2 separate regions of the Homo sapiens genome follow, and region 2 is linked to region 1. The links come from fine-mapping of genetic effects on gene expression. Tissue or cell type: whole blood. Region 1 holds a variant in brackets; the other region holds the start of a gene. All regions are shown on one strand. Distances are from middle to middle.

Region 1 (8,107 bases):
CTGTTCCTTAAAATCTGAGTGGAAAGAGTGGAAAGAAGTCCTTTAGTGCATAGTCAGCTGTGGAGGAAAACCAAGGCCAGATGGAAGGGACTTGAAAAGCGTTTGTGGGGTCCTTCCACCACCAGAGGCTGAGGCTATAGCTATTTATGATAGAATATACCTTACTCCATGGGGAAAACTCTTGTCTAATCCCCCATCCCTCAAAAAATTATGTAAGGATAAAACATTATATTCTTTGAGAGATCTTTTACAATTTTTCCTACATACCTGTGAATGTCAATTTTACTTGACTCTAAGAACTTAAAATGGTTTCTATGTTATGTACTTTCTTTATTTTTTCCATCCACTTTCTAGAGTCCTGCTTTCTATCTAACATTGCTAATAAGTGCTGCTCTTTGCAATGGAAGATGGTGCCAGTGACTCACTTTCTAGAGGGCCACGCACTCTAAGATACTTCTCCTAGTGGGAGGAATTGGTATTGTCAACCTTTGGAGGCTGTTACTTTTTTCTGTGTAAAGTGAATTGGTCATTAGGGAACTCAAACCTTGAAGTTGGCATTGACTGTTTCTAGGGGACTAAAAGAAACATTGATCATAATACACACTCAACCTAAATGAAATAATCTTTTCTGAATGATTACATTATGAAAAGAGATTCATGGAACTTTTATTCTGGGAGGGACATTAAAAATCACTTAGTATAACCTCATATTTTTATACTGGCAGTAAGGACTCTTAGAGAATTGTTTTTTAATAGGTGAGGATACTAAAGCCCAAAGAGGGAAGTGATATGCCCAAGGTCTTATTGCTGTTAGTGGATTGTAACCCTGGCTGTACTACGCTAGAATAATTGGGAGAGTTGTTGAAAAGTACCGATGCTTGGGTCTCACTGCAGACTAATGAATCAGATTTTCTGGGCCTAAAGCCTGGGTTACTGGCACTTTTTAAAGCTCTCCAGCTGACTCTATCTGAGGCCAGAGTGGAGAAGCACTGAGCTAGACAAGAACCCAGCCCCCAGTCCCGAGACTGCCAGTGTTAGCAAACCCATGGCAGTCTCTCATTCCGCACCCCTGAGCCCATGGCAGACTTGACTCATGGGTCACTGAACTGTTTCCTGCTGTGCCTAACCTGGCCTTCTCATACTGTTCATCTGCTGCCTGTCCATGAGCATTGGGAAGACAACCTGAGACACAGCTACAGTCAGGCACTGTATCTTGGTTCCTCTAAATAAAATCACACAAAATATCTGAAAGTATTATTCTGGTAACACTGTGATTGTATATTCTCACAGTCCAGTGTATTCATCTATTGGTCTGTCAAGGCTCAATGGGGGAATACCAGGGTGAAAGCCCTGTGTGACTCAACTGAGCTAGGTCTGAACACTACTCTGCTATTTACAACCTGTGTGATTTTGGGCAAGTTTTTGTGCCTCAGTTTCTTCCATGTCTCTTCTCTGGCATTAATCTCCAGCAAAACTGAAGCCTGGACCCTCAGTCTTTCCTGCTTTTTAAATCTATCTGAACCACACAATCCCCTTAATCCCTGATACTAACTTGTTCTTATGAACAAAGACTTGGTAAGAGTTAGTGCTTAGGCCTCATTCCCAAGTACTCAGAGCGCCTGGAAATGGCCTTCCAAAGACACAATACTTCGACACATTTTTTTCTTGGGTATTGTGTACTTCTCTAGCCAGAGATGAACTTCGCAGTCTCCTAACAAATTGGATTCTGTTTAAATTGATTCTACTCAAAAGTGAGAGCAAAGGATGTAGGCTGCTGGACTGGATGCAAACAACGTGACAATCCCTCTCCCCCACCTCCCTCCCTGCCCTGCAGCCTGGGTTACCACCCAGGGCCAGAGCCTGAGCTACCACCCAGGGCCAGAGCCTGAGCTTACATCACACAAGGAAACCGCCTTGTTCTAGCAGAGACCAGTTGCTGTTAGATCAAGGCTGCTGAATCCCCCCAGGGCTCTGATCCCTATTGTTTTTTGGTTAAAATATGAGTTCCTTCCAGGCTCTCACCCTAATACTGCTCGTTCTTCCTCATCTCTTGCCATCCCCTGCCTCCCCTACCACCCCCCACTGTTGCCTCCTGGCCAAATTATTCGCCATAAATGCCTTCTGGAATGCCCGCTTCATGGTAAGTGAGCTCCTCGTGCCCTCACCCTGCCTTAACTGAACATGGCTTTCTTGGGACTGTCTTCCTGAGGTCCTTTCATTCTCAAAGAGTGGGATGTCAAAGAGTGGGATGTCATTCTTCTCCTCCTGAGTTCAACAGGTGAGGGTATACAATCCTTCTGGGAGAGGAGAGAGAATAACTCTCAGTACCACACTTGGAAAAAGTGCTTGTCATTTTTCTCTCTCAACTGCTTCTTACAATTAGTTCAATTTGTATCTCATGGGACTGTATGGGACAGACTGAATTCTTAAGTCAATCCTACCTATGTCTCTAGTGCAGCCTCAGAGAAGATAGATGATGCCTTTTGGAACCCATGTCTCTCTGACCCCAGAATCTGGGATCTTCCCCACCACACACATCACATCTCCCAATGTGTGGACAGGACAACACCAGGTGCACCAAGCTACTTTTAGAGGAACAGTACTCATACCATCTGCAAGTTATAAGAAAACTTAAGAGGCCGGGTATGGTGGCTCATGCCTGTAATCCCAGCACTTTGGGGGGCCGAGGCAGGCAGATCATCTGAGGTCAGGAGTTCAAGACCAGCCTAGCTAACATGGTGAAACCCCGTCTCTACTAAAAATACAAAAATAAGCTGGGCATGGTGGTGGGTACCTGTAATCCCAGCTACTCGGGAGGCTGAGGCAGGAGAATTGCTTGAACCTGGCAGGTGGAGGTTGCAGTGAGCCTAGATCATGCCATTGTACTCCGGCTTGGGCAACAAGAGTGAAACTACATCTCAAAACAAACAAAGAAACAAACAAACAAAGAAAACTTAATAATCCAACCCTCTTTTCACAGATGAGCCCAAAGACACTCTGGCTTACTTACAGTGATCCCAGGAAGTTAGTGACAAAACTCTCCCAGTTTCCCCTGTACCACTCAGAGACTTTAAAGAACTTGAAATCTAATCTCCAAGATCAATACAATAAGCACACAAATAATTACAATTCAAGGTATTATATGAGAAACAAAGTCTGAAAGCAGATGGGAGAGGGAGAAATTACATCTTTAGGCTGCGGTAGGGTGGCCTAGGAAGGGTAATCAGGATTGTGTACAACGGTTCTCAACCTTTTTCGTCTCATAACTTTTTTACACTTAAAATTTTTTAAAAAAATATTTGTGGGTACACAGTAGGTGTATATATTTATGGGAGTATATGAGATGTTTTGATACAGGGATGCAATGCGAAATAAGCACATCATAGAGAATGGGGTATCCATCCCCTCGAGCATTTATTCTTTGGGTTACAAGCAACTCAATTATACTCTGTAAGTTATTTAAAAATGTACAATTAATTATTAATTATGTATTTACTGTAGTCACTCTGTGGTGCTATCAAATAGTAGGTCTTATTCATTCTTCCTATTTTTTTTTGTACCCATTAACCATCTTACCTACCCTGCCAGGTCCCCACTACCCTTCCCACCCTCTGGTAACTACCCTTCTACTCTCTATGTCCATGAGTTCCTTGTTTTGATTTTTAGATCCTACAAATAAGTGAGAAGATGTGATGTTTGTGTCTGGCTTATTTCACTTAACATAATCATCTCCAGTTTCATCCATGTTGTTGCAAGTGACTGGGTCTCATTCATTTTTATGGCTGAATAGTACTCCGGTGTGTATATGTACCACATTTTCTTTATCCATTCATCTGTTGACGAACACTTAGGTTGCTTCTATTGTAAACAGAGCTGCAACAAACATAGGAGTGCAGATACCTCTTCAATATATTGATTTCCTTTCTTTTGTGTACATACCCAGCAGTGGGATTGCTGGATCATATGGTAGCTCAATTTTTAGTTTTTTGAGGAACTTCTAGGCTGTTCTCCATAGTGGTTGTACTAATTTACATTCCTACCAACAGTGTACAAGGGTTCCCTTTTCTTCACATCCTCACCAGCATTTGTTATTACCCGTCTTTTGGATACAAGCCATTTTAACTGGTACAAGATGATATTTTGCTGTAGTTTTGATTTGCATTTCTCTGACGATCAATGATGTTAAGCACTTTTTCATATGCCTACTGGTCATTTGTATGTCTTCTTTTAAGAAATGTCCATTCAAATCTTTTGCCCATTTTTGATTGGATTATTAGTTTTTTCCTATGGAACTGTTTGGGCTCCTTATATATTCTGGTTATTAATCCTTTGTAAGATGGAAAGTTTGCAAATATTTTCTCCCATCCTGTGGGTTGTCTCTTCGCTTTGTTGGTTGTCTCCTTTGCTGTGCAGAAACTTTTTAATTTGATATGATCCCATTTGTCTATGTTTGCTTTGATTGCCTATGGTTGTGGGGTATTGCTCAAGAAATATTTGCCCAGACCAATGTCCTGGAGTGTATCCCAATGTTTTCTTTTAGTAGTTTCATAGTTTGAGGTCTTACATTTAAATCTTTAATCCATTTTGGTTTGATTTTTGTATAGGGCAAGAGATAGAGGTCTAGTTTCATTCTTCTGCAGAGGGATATCCAGTTTTCCCAGCATCATTTATTGTCTTTTCCTTAGTGTATGTTTTTGGCCCTTTTACATTCTTAACCCCAAGAGCTTGGTTTTTTGGGGTTATATCTATTGATTTTTACTGTATTAGTAATTAAAACTAAGAACATTAAAAATATACATTGACTATACTTAAAAATAATAAACCCATTATATGTTATCACATTTTTATGAAAATAACTACATTTTCCAAAACAAATGCAGTGACAAGCGTGACATTTGTTTTCTATTTCTGCTGCTCTGTTTAATCTCTGGCTTAACAGAAGACAGCTGGATTCTCATATTTACTGCTCATTCGCTCTCTTGACATAGGTTGTTTTGGCTGAGGCCTTAGAAGAAAACTCAGCCTCATGCAGACTTA[C/T]AGTTGGAAAAGAGGATAGTATTTTAATAGTCTTTTCAGATAACTGTACCTATTTATCAATACTACATCAAAACTTCACAAGGAGTAGTTTCTTAAAAGTTAGCTGCAATGTAGAAACTGAAATCATATCAAATGAACTTTCAGCATGCAGTTATGTTAAAATCTATTGGTCTGTCTTGCATTTTAAATGTATAGTTTTGTTATATCATGTATTGGTTCTTTTGGCAATACTGGTTTGCTGAATTATACAGATCTTCCAAATATTGTCACATTTCATTATATAGTATAAAAAATTGCTTGTTAATATCACCACTAGTCTTATCTGGAAAGAATTTAAATAATGGGGACATGCTCGCAGTGGATACAAATATTTTGAAATTCTAATTTTCACTTAACATTCTGTCAGTTATTTTCTTGAAGGAGACTCATATTATTACTTTTCTGAGTACTCATAGTTTTTGTCTGTCAGCTGTTGTTTTAGGCAAAAATGGGTTCAACGAAAAAAGCAGTTCATTCAGCTCACAACTCAGACAATTGCTCAAGTGCTTTAGTTGTACTTCCCATTTAGTCACTCAGAATATTTAAAAGACAAGTTGTTGAAGGCTAAGATAATAATTTTTACTGCCTTTATCAAGGACATTCTTAACTGAAACTGGCTTTTTTTTTATGGGAGGTGCATAGCATCATTGCTTTGAATGGTGCTAAGTCAGGTGCCAGCAGTGCTAGCTACCATTTCCGCCATCTGCGCAAACGTCAACACAGTGAAGAAGGAAACTGATATCTTCTGACTCAAAATAGATTTGATCTTGTGGACTACCTGAAAGACCCCTGAGAGTGGAACTCACTTTGAGAACTGCTGTTGTACAAGATACTGGCTTTGAAAAATGAGTTGGATTTTGAAAGGATAAGATGAGGGAGTATATCTGAAGAACAGCAGGTACGCAGTTTGGTTGGAGAAGGAGGAAAGCAGAGGCAGATGAAACTGAAAAGATATCGTGAAAGGCCTGAATGCCTTCATGATGACCCACTTAGGTTTAAGCCACACAGAAAGAGGCAGGCTAGGGGGAGCATCTTTTTTTTTTTTTTTAATAGAAAAGTTGTGGCTTCAACTTATATAAAATAAAGGTCGCCATGTGTACAGTCACTAGTTATAAATAAATGATCGCATTGCTGCTTTCCTCATAGGGAATAAATAAAACAAACATCTTTACAAATTACTTGTTGTAAGAATCATGCTGCACTATTACTTCAATTTAGACAGTATTTATTTTAAAAGGAAAAAGAATGAGAACAAACCATTGTGGAAGACAGTGTGGCGATTCCTCAAGGATCTAGAACCAGAAGTTCAATCCCATTACTGGGTATATACCCAAAGGATTATAAATCATTCTACTATAAAGACACATGCACACGTATGTTTACTGCAGTACTATTCACAATAACAAAGACTGGGAACCAACCCAAATGCCCATTAATGATAGACTGGATAAAGAAAATGTGGCACATATACACCATGGAATACTATGCAGCCATAAAAAAGGATGAGTTCATGTCCTTTGCAGGGACATGGATGAAGCTGGAAACCATCTCAGCAAACTAACACAAGAACAGAAAACCAAACACTGCATGTTCTCACTCATAAGTGGGAGTTGAACAATGAGAACACATGGACACAGGGAGGGGAACATTACACACCAGAGGCTGGTTGGGGGCTAGGGGGCTAGGGGAGGGATAGCATTAGGAGAAATACCTAACATAGATGACAGGTTGATGGGTGCAGCAAACCACCCTGGCACGTGTATAATTATTTAACAAACCTGCACGTAACCTGCACGTTCTGCACATGTATCCCAGTACTTAAAGTATAATAATAACAAAAGAATGAGAACATTTATTAAGCACCTATTCTGAACCAAACACTATGCTAGTCACTTTTCATGTGTTATATGATTTAATCCTTACAACAAACTTACAAAAGTGGTATTATAATTCATACAGTTAAGGCGAACGAAGCCCAAAATGTCATGTGACTTTCTAAGGGACACGACTCTGAACTCTGACTTTGTTAAACTTCATTTGGTCATCCCTTATCTCAAGGCATTTGGGGAAAGTCAAATTTAATTATCATGTACTTGTATATATACATATCTAATGCAATCTTTTTTCTTTTTTGGTTTTTCTAGTGCATTCTTAAAATAGGGCACAAAATGATGTCACAAACCCAATGAAATACAATAAGATATGAAATCTCTAAAGAGATTGCGTATTTTAAATTTTTTCTTTCAGGAACTATTTTATACAAGAGATATTGCTGATTACTGGGAGCATTAGGTTGGCTGATAGAGATTTTGTTAAAACATTAGAAATATCAGCATTTGAAATTCATGGCTAAGCTTCATCACAATGCTTTTGGATACAAAGACCTTTTTCTTTCATATTCTTAAATATCAGTAAGAAAAAGAGAGAAAGCAATTCAGATTCATAGTCTGATGACATATTCTCTGGCCTAAGAAAAAAAGGTACTAAGTTTACTGACATCAACGAACAGGTTCTAGGTATACACCGCCAAGTCAGCATGGCCTGTTCTTCCTAAACTTGGACCTGTTCCTTTGAATACCCATGGTACTTTACACATGCATGCACACACATACTCTCTTTACACATGCATGTACACACACACACACACACACACACACACACACACACACACATCAGAGTTATGGCATACTTCTCCTCCCCAGTGTAGACAAATTATCTGTTTAACTGGATGCTTGGAAACTTTTCTGTTGACATTAAAAAAATTTTTTTTGACTGGGCATGGTGCTTCACACCTGTAATCCCAGCACTTTGGGAGGCTGAGGTGGGAGGATCGCTTTAGCTCAGGAGTTCAAGGAAGCAGTGAGCTATGATTGCACCACTGCACTCTAGTCTGGGCAACAGAGAGAGACTCTGTCTCAAAAAAAAAAAACATCAAAATGATTTCAAATTAATGTCCATCCAAATGAATATTTTACTATAAAATAAAAGAAGTAAATAATACAGAGTAATTATTTATTACTTATTCATTTCT
Region 2 (8,101 bases), 29 kb after region 1:
AGAAAGCTTAAATCTAGATCTACTATGTCCTTGTGATTTAGCAATATGACTTTAGGCAAGTAACTAAGCATTGATTTGGTCAATGAAATGGGGATAACAGTATTCACGCATGGGATTGTGAAGATTAAATGAAATAACATATACAAAGCACTTAGCATACAGAAAGAGCTCAATAAATGTTGGCTGTTATTATAGTTATCATCTAGAAAGCTATATTATCTTTAAATATTCCCATCTGTATCATCCTGAACCACTTTATTCCTATTGCAGTTCTTCTCAACCCACATCAGTCTTTTTTAATTTTTTTACTAATCACATATTTCTTTTTATCATTTTGAACACTTCAACAAATTGCATGTTTTGACCTCTTACATTAGCAGTTGTTCCTGGTATCCAGATGTAGCATGGTCATTTATAGTATTATTTGCATTTATAGTATCATTTTAAGAGGTAATATTAGTATTTTAACTCTTATAAGAGATACAGGTTACACTGCTATACAATTAGTAGGTAATCTCCTGTCAATAAATTCAAACATAAATTGCTTCCTAGCTTTTAAGTATAAATTTTGGCTCAAGGAAAAATTTTAATATATAACATTATAAACCAGGTTGGGACTATATTTGGTATAAGGTTTAGGCCCTTTGTTGCTGTTTTTTGTACAATTTACAACTACATTGCCAGATGAAAAGTTTTAATATAAATGACAACAGTACTGTTTCACTAAGGCTTTTATGTTACTTAGTACTAAAAAAATCTAATGTATTAAGGTGGGCTGAGGTACTAGAAATATTATGGATGAATTTTAGTAGAGCAAGAACAGGCATGACACAACCCATGGTTGGAGAAGATCCACATAAATAGTCCTTTCCATTTTGAGCAGCTGGCTTCAATACATCCTGCCCCTCCGCATGCTAGTTCTCCTAAGATGAACAGCTCTGAAAAGCTCCTTGATAGACTAGTTCTATCCCCTAGAAGGACAAACGAAAAGTACTAAAGAAATTGCAAAGCAACACTGTTGTGGGATAGGGATGGTAGATGCGCTAATAGATACATAAGGAATTCCAGTACACAAGATAATAAAAGTTAATGAGAGTGATATTTACAACATCCAGCCAAATGAGTGTTAGCCCATTCATAGTAATTATAGTTGTTTCTAATTTTTGTTTTAAAATGCTGCTCAGAACTCAACTAATTTTTAGAAATTTTGTTTATGTACTCCTTTAGAATTTTTTCGATGCTTTTATCTTCGCAGAGTGAATTTTTATAAATAAATGTCACTGACTGGGCACGGTGGCTCATGCCTGTAATCCCAGCACTTTGGGAGGCCGAGGTGGGTGGATCACGAGGTCAGGAGATCGAGACCATCCTGGCTAACACGGTGAAACCCCGTTTCTACCAGAAATACAAAAAATTAGCCAGGCGTGGTGGCGGGCGCCTGTAGTCTCAGCTACTCGGGAGGCTGAGGCAGGGGAATGGGAGGCGGAGCTTGCAGTGAGCTGAGGTGGGCCACTGCACTCCAGCCTGGGCGACAGAGCGAAACTCAAAAATAAATAAATAAGTAAATAAAATAAATAAATATCACTGGAGGTAAGCCAGGTGAACTGGATAGTAACAGAGTTGGATAATACTTTGGGAAATCACACATACACACACCAAAAAACCAAAACCAAACCAAAGATGCAGCAAAAAAATTAACGGAGATGACGTTCTTAGATTGATCCAAAGTTGCCTCCGTGTAATTTCACAAGCGTTTCCAAAATATTCTAGGCAAGAGGCAATTTCCAAAAGATTCTAGCAAGAGTTACTGAAGGTCAATATTCTTATGCAAACATTTTGTTTTTTTTTTTTGAGGGGTTGTGGGGGAAATGAGGAAGTGAAGGAAATCCTATTATTTAATAATTACATGGAGGAAAAACGACTGGTAAATTTGAAAGGTAGTTTTTAGATAAAAAACCAAAATACCTTAAGAAATGTCCTTAAATTTCCATATGTATGTCTGGCACCCTTAACTAGGGGGCCATGGAGAGAAGGAAGGTAGACGGTTTAATGTTCACAATAATTAACCCTTTTGTAATGAATTTAATCTCATCTTAACTCCCTGAGTTAAAAAAATAAAACAAACTGAGTCAGGTGCGATGGCTCGCAACTGTAATCCTAGCAGTTAGGGGAGGCAGAGGCGGGAGGACAGCTTGAACTCAGGAGTTCAAGACCAGCCTGGCCAACACAGTGAGACTGTCTCTACAAAAAATACAAATTAACCGGGCTCGTGCCTGTAATCCCAGTTTACGTAATCCCAGATTACAGGCTCGTGCCTGTAATCCCAGCTAGGGTAGGCCGAGGTGGGAGGATCTTTGAACCCGGGAGTTGGAGGCTGCAGTGAGCTACGATCGTGCCACTGCACTCCAACCTGGGCGACAGAGCGAGACTCCATCTCAAAAAACAAACAAAACAACAAAACTGAGCTAAAGACAAATAGGATTGACCTGGGGAGTGGGGTCTGAGGCAATGGGATGAGGCTGTCTAACAGGGCACCTCACAGGGAGATGAGAACCGCTTGGCCACACAGAGGCAAAATGCGGCCGAGGTCAGCACAGCCCTCTCGGGGTTAAGAACGGGGCGCCTGAGGGGTATCCCGGTCCCCGACTAGAACCTCCTACGCGCTGGCAGCCAGAAACAGGATGAAGGAGACTGGCGCGGACTGCGGGCTCTGCGGGCGGGGCGGGGCGGGGCGGGGCGGGGCGGGGCGGGGCGGGGGCCAGCCCTCTGGGGCATGCCGGGGGGCGGAGTCTGCGCTGAGTGAAGAGGTGCCAGAATCCGCGAAGAGGGTCGACGAATGCGCTGCCGCGGAGGGTAGGGCGCTGAGGGTCTGAACCCTGATGCAAGGAGGGGCTGGAGGTCGCGGGCACGTTTCTTTTGGGTTGGGCGGCGGAGGGGCAGCTCTAGGGCCTGGAGCAGGGCTTTACCAGAACAGTCCACCCCTCCCGCCCGGTTAACCTGAGCGTCTCTTTCGCCTTGGCTTGGTTCCGGTCGCTACTGTGGGTGCCGCCGCCGCAGCCTTTGGGCTGCTCGACCATACCCCGTCTTAGAAGGTCAGGTGTGCAAAACTTGGACTCGACTTCATCCAAGAGCTCGTCCAGGTCCTCCGCCATCTTGAATCGCCTGGCCTTTTCCCCTCCAATCGCCAAGGCTCCGGTGGTTTCCAGGAGTAACGAGGGGACCTGGCGGGCTCCTGCCCCGTTAGGCGTCCCCGCGCATGCGCACCGCTTCCCGTGGCAACCCGGCGCCCACGAGGGCTCGCGGCAGAGAACGCGGTGGGTTCGTGAGGGGCGGGCGTATGCAGGGACAGAGTTCGGAGCTGTCTCTGCAGTGTGTCTGTGTGACTCGCGATGCTTTGCGTTTCTTCCTTTCAGCATGTCTGGCGTGGTTCCTCCCGTCTCCCCCTCCCGGGCCCACGTTGTAACCACAAGCACGCATTCTCGCCCCTTCATTCTCTCCTCTCCCGTTTGGGTCCCTGTTGTGTTTCAGCCGTTTGTAAATTCCTGAAATCTGTGGAAGGTTTGAGCAGAACGCTCTAAAACACAAAAAGTAAGTGTTGACGGCAAAAAGCTGACATTCCCGTAGTCGGCAGGATTCGAACCTGCGCGGGGAGACCCCAATGGATTTCTAGTCCATCGCCTTAACCACTCGGCCACGACTACTGGCTGTGTGAATTTTTGCGGTGAGAGTGCATGTAGACTCTGCATAAGCGTCTGCTGCAGCAATAGGCACGTTTTGATGTGGAGGAAACCATTACTGAGCTGTTCTGTTAAGAGCATATTTGAATGTTACCTCGCTCATCATTTTACAGTTTGTAAAAGTCTTAGAACGTATCCCGTCCAACTCTTTGTTGGAAAAAACGGAAATTCTAATTAAATCCGAGAGAGAGAGAGAGAGAGACAGAGAGAGAGATGCGTGCTCAAAACTATTGCACACCCACTTGCTTGCACAATGTTGGAGCCATTTCCAGGAGAGAACCAGGAACCGGGTAGGGGCCAACCAGCTTCCCGACTTCCTTGTGGGGCTGCCAGTTCCACTCCTTCGCCTTTCTCTTTGACAAACGGCTCCCAGGACTATCTTTTCACCCATTATACATTAAAAAGCTATTACCCAGCGATTTAAATTCACTCTGCAGGGTCAGACAGTCCCACCGTGCCATAAAAGCACTACTTTGAAAAGTGTAAAGCGTGATACAAGTGTAAGGTATTGTAAATGGCATTCTTAATAAATACTGTGCATAGTTTAACCTGTGTTTTGGGTATTTCTAAAGTGGGGTAGCAAAGAGGTTGGCACCCTTGGGAACTCTGGAGATAGTTTGATCCAGATGATTTGTTTGTTCAAAGTATCTTTTAAGGTCCCTGAAGAGCAACATGTAGTGGTGTGCTGGAGCCAATGGGACATGCTCACTCCTACCCAGTGATAAATTTTCAAGGATTTTGGGAGCTAGTTGTTAAATGCAATTATTATTAAATATTAAATTATGCAAACTTGCAATTACATTATGTTAAAAGCAAATATGATACTCAAAATTCATATGCTAGTGATTCCACTACCTTTTACTATTATTTATAAATATAATTGAGATTGTTTACATCTGAAAGACTTTCTCTCTTTAACTTTCCATTCAGTGATGTCACTTGGGAAGCTTGAAATGAGCCATAGTGGGTGTTATTTACATGAGGGAAATTGCAAATGTGACAAAGCAGGGCTTTTTATCCCTAGGAGATGAAAGATACTTTGAACAAACAAATCATCTAGATCAAACTGTCATTTAGTAGAACACCCCATGTTACCATCAGACCAACTGTGAATATTCTCAGCAAGGCAACACTCCCCTTTTCTGCAGGGCTGCTCTATTTATTGTCTCTGAATCTTTGTTTTAGCTATTAGAATCCTGGCCTAAACACACACACACACACACACACACACACACACACAAATATGCATATAAACATATATGTATATTTACACACACAGGGGAAACTAGCATTTTTATGCAAAATACTTAACATTGAGCACTGACCACTCAGATCAGACACTGTCAGGATGCTTAAGTAGTATCCTAGAGGCACCCTGACATGTATTACCCTTGTAGTCAGAGTAGAGAACTCTAGAGGGTGGGGAGACAATGTTGGGGCAAGGAGGGGACTCGGACACTAGTTATTTGTCTAGAATCCTGGCATATTCTATGATTTCCAACTAATTAATTTTTTAAAGTTTTTTTCCAAGTTGCCTTGCTGGGCGATTTTACCTAGAACCGGTCTCTAGCAGAAAGGCAAGGAAAAGCTGCTTGAAAAAGCGGTCCTTGCAACATGGTTCCAGGGGAAGTCATAGTTAGTGGCCATCCAGTTTAACAGGCTTACATTAATGATTTGATTTTGCTCTTGAGAAGATGAAATCTGAGGGGATCTGTACCAATGTTGAAAGTATCTGTTAGCGGCCGGGCGCGGTGGCTCACGCCTGTAATCCCAGCACTTTGGGAGGCCGAGGCGGGCGGATCACGAGGTCAGGAGATGGAGACCATCCTGGCTAACACGGTGAAACCCCGTCTTTACTAAAAATACAAAAAATTAGCTGAGCGTGGTGGCGGGCGCCTGTACTGGCAGCTACTCGGGAGGTTGAGGCAGGAGAATGGCGTGAACCCGGGAGGCGGAGCTTGCAGTGAGCCAAGATCGCGCCACAGCACTCCAGCTTGGGCCACAGAGCGAGACTCCGTCTCAAAAAAAAAAAAAAAAAAAAAAAAGAATCTATTAGCGTGTAGAAGATTTGCAATGAGAGATGGTGAAAAAATAAAAGAGAAAATGTTTCTGGTTTTCTGTGTTTTGTTTTTTGTGTATATTAGAAAAAAATTAGTGTGTTCCCTCGCTCCCTCACTTCTACTCCCATTTTTCTGGTCTTTTGATTGGATAATTTATTCCGTTTACATTTTAAAATTTCATTTTATTGATTTTATTTACTTTCAGTAGCTTTTGGGGTACAAGCGGTTTTTGGTTACATGGATGAATTGTATAGTGGTGAAGTCTGAAATTTTAGTGCACCTGTCACCCGAGTAGTGTACATTATACCCAAAAGGTAGTGTTCTTTTTTTTTTTTTTTTTTTCCCAGACGGAGTTTTGCTCTTGCTGCCCAGGCTGGAGTGTGCAATGGTTTGATCTCTGCTCACCACAACCTCTGCTTCCTGGGTTCAAGTGATTCTCCTGCCTCAGCCTCCCAAGTAGCTGGGATTACAGGCATGTGCCACCATGCCGGGCTAATTTTGTATTTTTAGTAGAGACAGGGTTTCTCCATGCTGTTCAGGCTGGTCTCGAACTCCTGACCTCAGGTGATCCGCCCGCCTCAGCCTCCCAAAGTGCTGGGATTACAGGCGTGAGCCATCACACCCAGCCTCCAATAGATAGTGTTACTATCCTTTACCCCTCACCCGTCCTCCTCTCTTCTGAGTCTCCAGTGTCCATTATGCCACTCTGTATGCCTTTGTGTACCCATAAATTAACTCCTACTTACGAGTGAGAACATATGATACTTGGTTTTCCATTCCTGCCCACTCCCATTTTAATAAAATGGATGTATGGATCATCCAGAGTTTGGTATTTTGAGAATTTCATTTATGGCTCATTCAACTCTCCGGTGGGTCTCCTGACTTGAGTCATGTTCTCTTTCTGGTTTGCCACCGAGAGTGAAAGGTTGAGTTCAGAGTCTACAAGGAGAAATGCCATATGTCACATAAGAGTAACATATGTGTATGGCTGTGTGATAAACTGTAAAATTACAGTGCACTATTAAAATCTCCAGATGTCAGAAAGAAAGTTATACAGTTAAAAATTCAGTGGGCTCTAAACAATGGATGTGGATGTATAAGATGAAGGTAGTGTGGCTTTAGAAGATTCTACATTCAGGCAAATCCTATTAGATCATTTTTTTTTAAACCGGGCTATAAATTCCTTTGGTATAACTTTCTGTTTAACTAACAATCTTATTTCTTTCTCCATAATTGTTAACGTGTGTAGACAATGTCGTGAATCCTTGTCCCCTGTCTTTCCCAGTCATGGAAAGCATGCTGAGTGTCAGGTATTTCGTAAAGAATAGGCAAGTGCCTCCAGGTGATACAATTATTAACATGGTAAAGGAGACCGGGTGCCGTGGCTCATGCCTGTAATCCCAGTACTTTGGGAGGCCAAGGCGAGCGGATCACTTGAGCCCAGGAGTTTGAGACAGCCCAGGTGACATGGCAAAACGCTGTCTCTAACAAAAAAATTACAAAAATTAGCCAGGCATGGCAGCGCTGCACCTGTGGTCCCAGGTATGTGGTAGACTGAGGTGGGAGGATGGCTTGAGCTCAGGAGGTGGAGGCCGCAGTGAGCCGAGATAGTGCCACTGAACTTTAGCCTGGGTAAGAGAATGAGACTGTCTTAAAAACAAAACAAAAAACATGGTAAAGGGGCATGTCATGTATTATTACATTCACTTAGTATTCAAGGAAGTATTTTAGGTAAAAGGTGTCCAAATTAGGAAACCAAAGCACTGTTGGCTTTCCCAAGAATCTGAAGAACTCTCTGAGCCTGGTTTCTTGCTAGCACCATTATAAATGAGTTAGAGGTGGTGAGGCAGCTGGTTCTGCTGTCCCACGCCGCCTCAGGCCAACTGCTTCAGTTACAAGGTGTTCTGTAATCTCCCTGGCTGCTCACATAATGAATTGCAAGGCTTCTTTGAATTCCCATGTACTTAGGTTTAATTTTCCCTTCCCTGCATCTTTCCCCTGCATACTGCAGGCCTTTTAAACAAATACCCACTGGTGGGCGGTGACATTGGCATGAGGGGAGGCATCCTCCTGGATCAGTTGCAAGCCTCCTAGCAGCTGATGCCATGGAAGAATGGAGTAGCACCGAAGCAGCTCCAGTTCTTTTAAGTGGTCCCTGAATTAGGCCTCGATGTCATGTAGGTAAATTCAGCCCAGAACATGCAGAATCTTTATTGGAATTTGTACATTCATCTCTCACAGCTGTGGAGAGTTTAGACTAATCACAACTCTCACTGGGATACTATTATCTTGGTAATTTGAAAA

Evidence for each region. PIP is the estimated chance that this variant, and not a neighbour inherited with it, causes the effect.
Region 2: CFAP418 starts here. The variant in region 1 is fine-mapped to the expression of CFAP418 in whole blood (TOPMed, PIP 0.99).

Annotation. Positions count from the first base shown.
Region 1 is chr8:95,236,890-95,244,996 of GRCh38, forward strand. It overlaps CFAP418 (cilia and flagella associated protein 418), which reads right to left. Exons shown (of 6, transcript NM_177965.4): 6 at 8,024-8,107. Among named protein-coding and RNA genes, the nearest start is that of LINC01298, 25 kb to the left of the region's middle. The variant C/T (reference allele first, on the strand shown) is at 5,038.
Region 2 is chr8:95,266,038-95,274,138 of GRCh38, forward strand. CFAP418 (cilia and flagella associated protein 418) reads right to left here and starts at 3,164. Exons shown (of 6, transcript NM_177965.4): 1 at 2,998-3,164. The coding sequence starts at 3,152. It overlaps CFAP418-AS1 (CFAP418 antisense RNA 1), which reads left to right and starts at 2,799. Exons shown (of 4, transcript NR_038209.1): 1 at 2,799-2,853. It overlaps TRS-AGA2-5 (tRNA-Ser (anticodon AGA) 2-5), which reads right to left and starts at 3,701; the gene lies at 3,620-3,701. RefSeq lists enhancers at 2,756-3,195, 3,150-3,789, 3,826-3,905.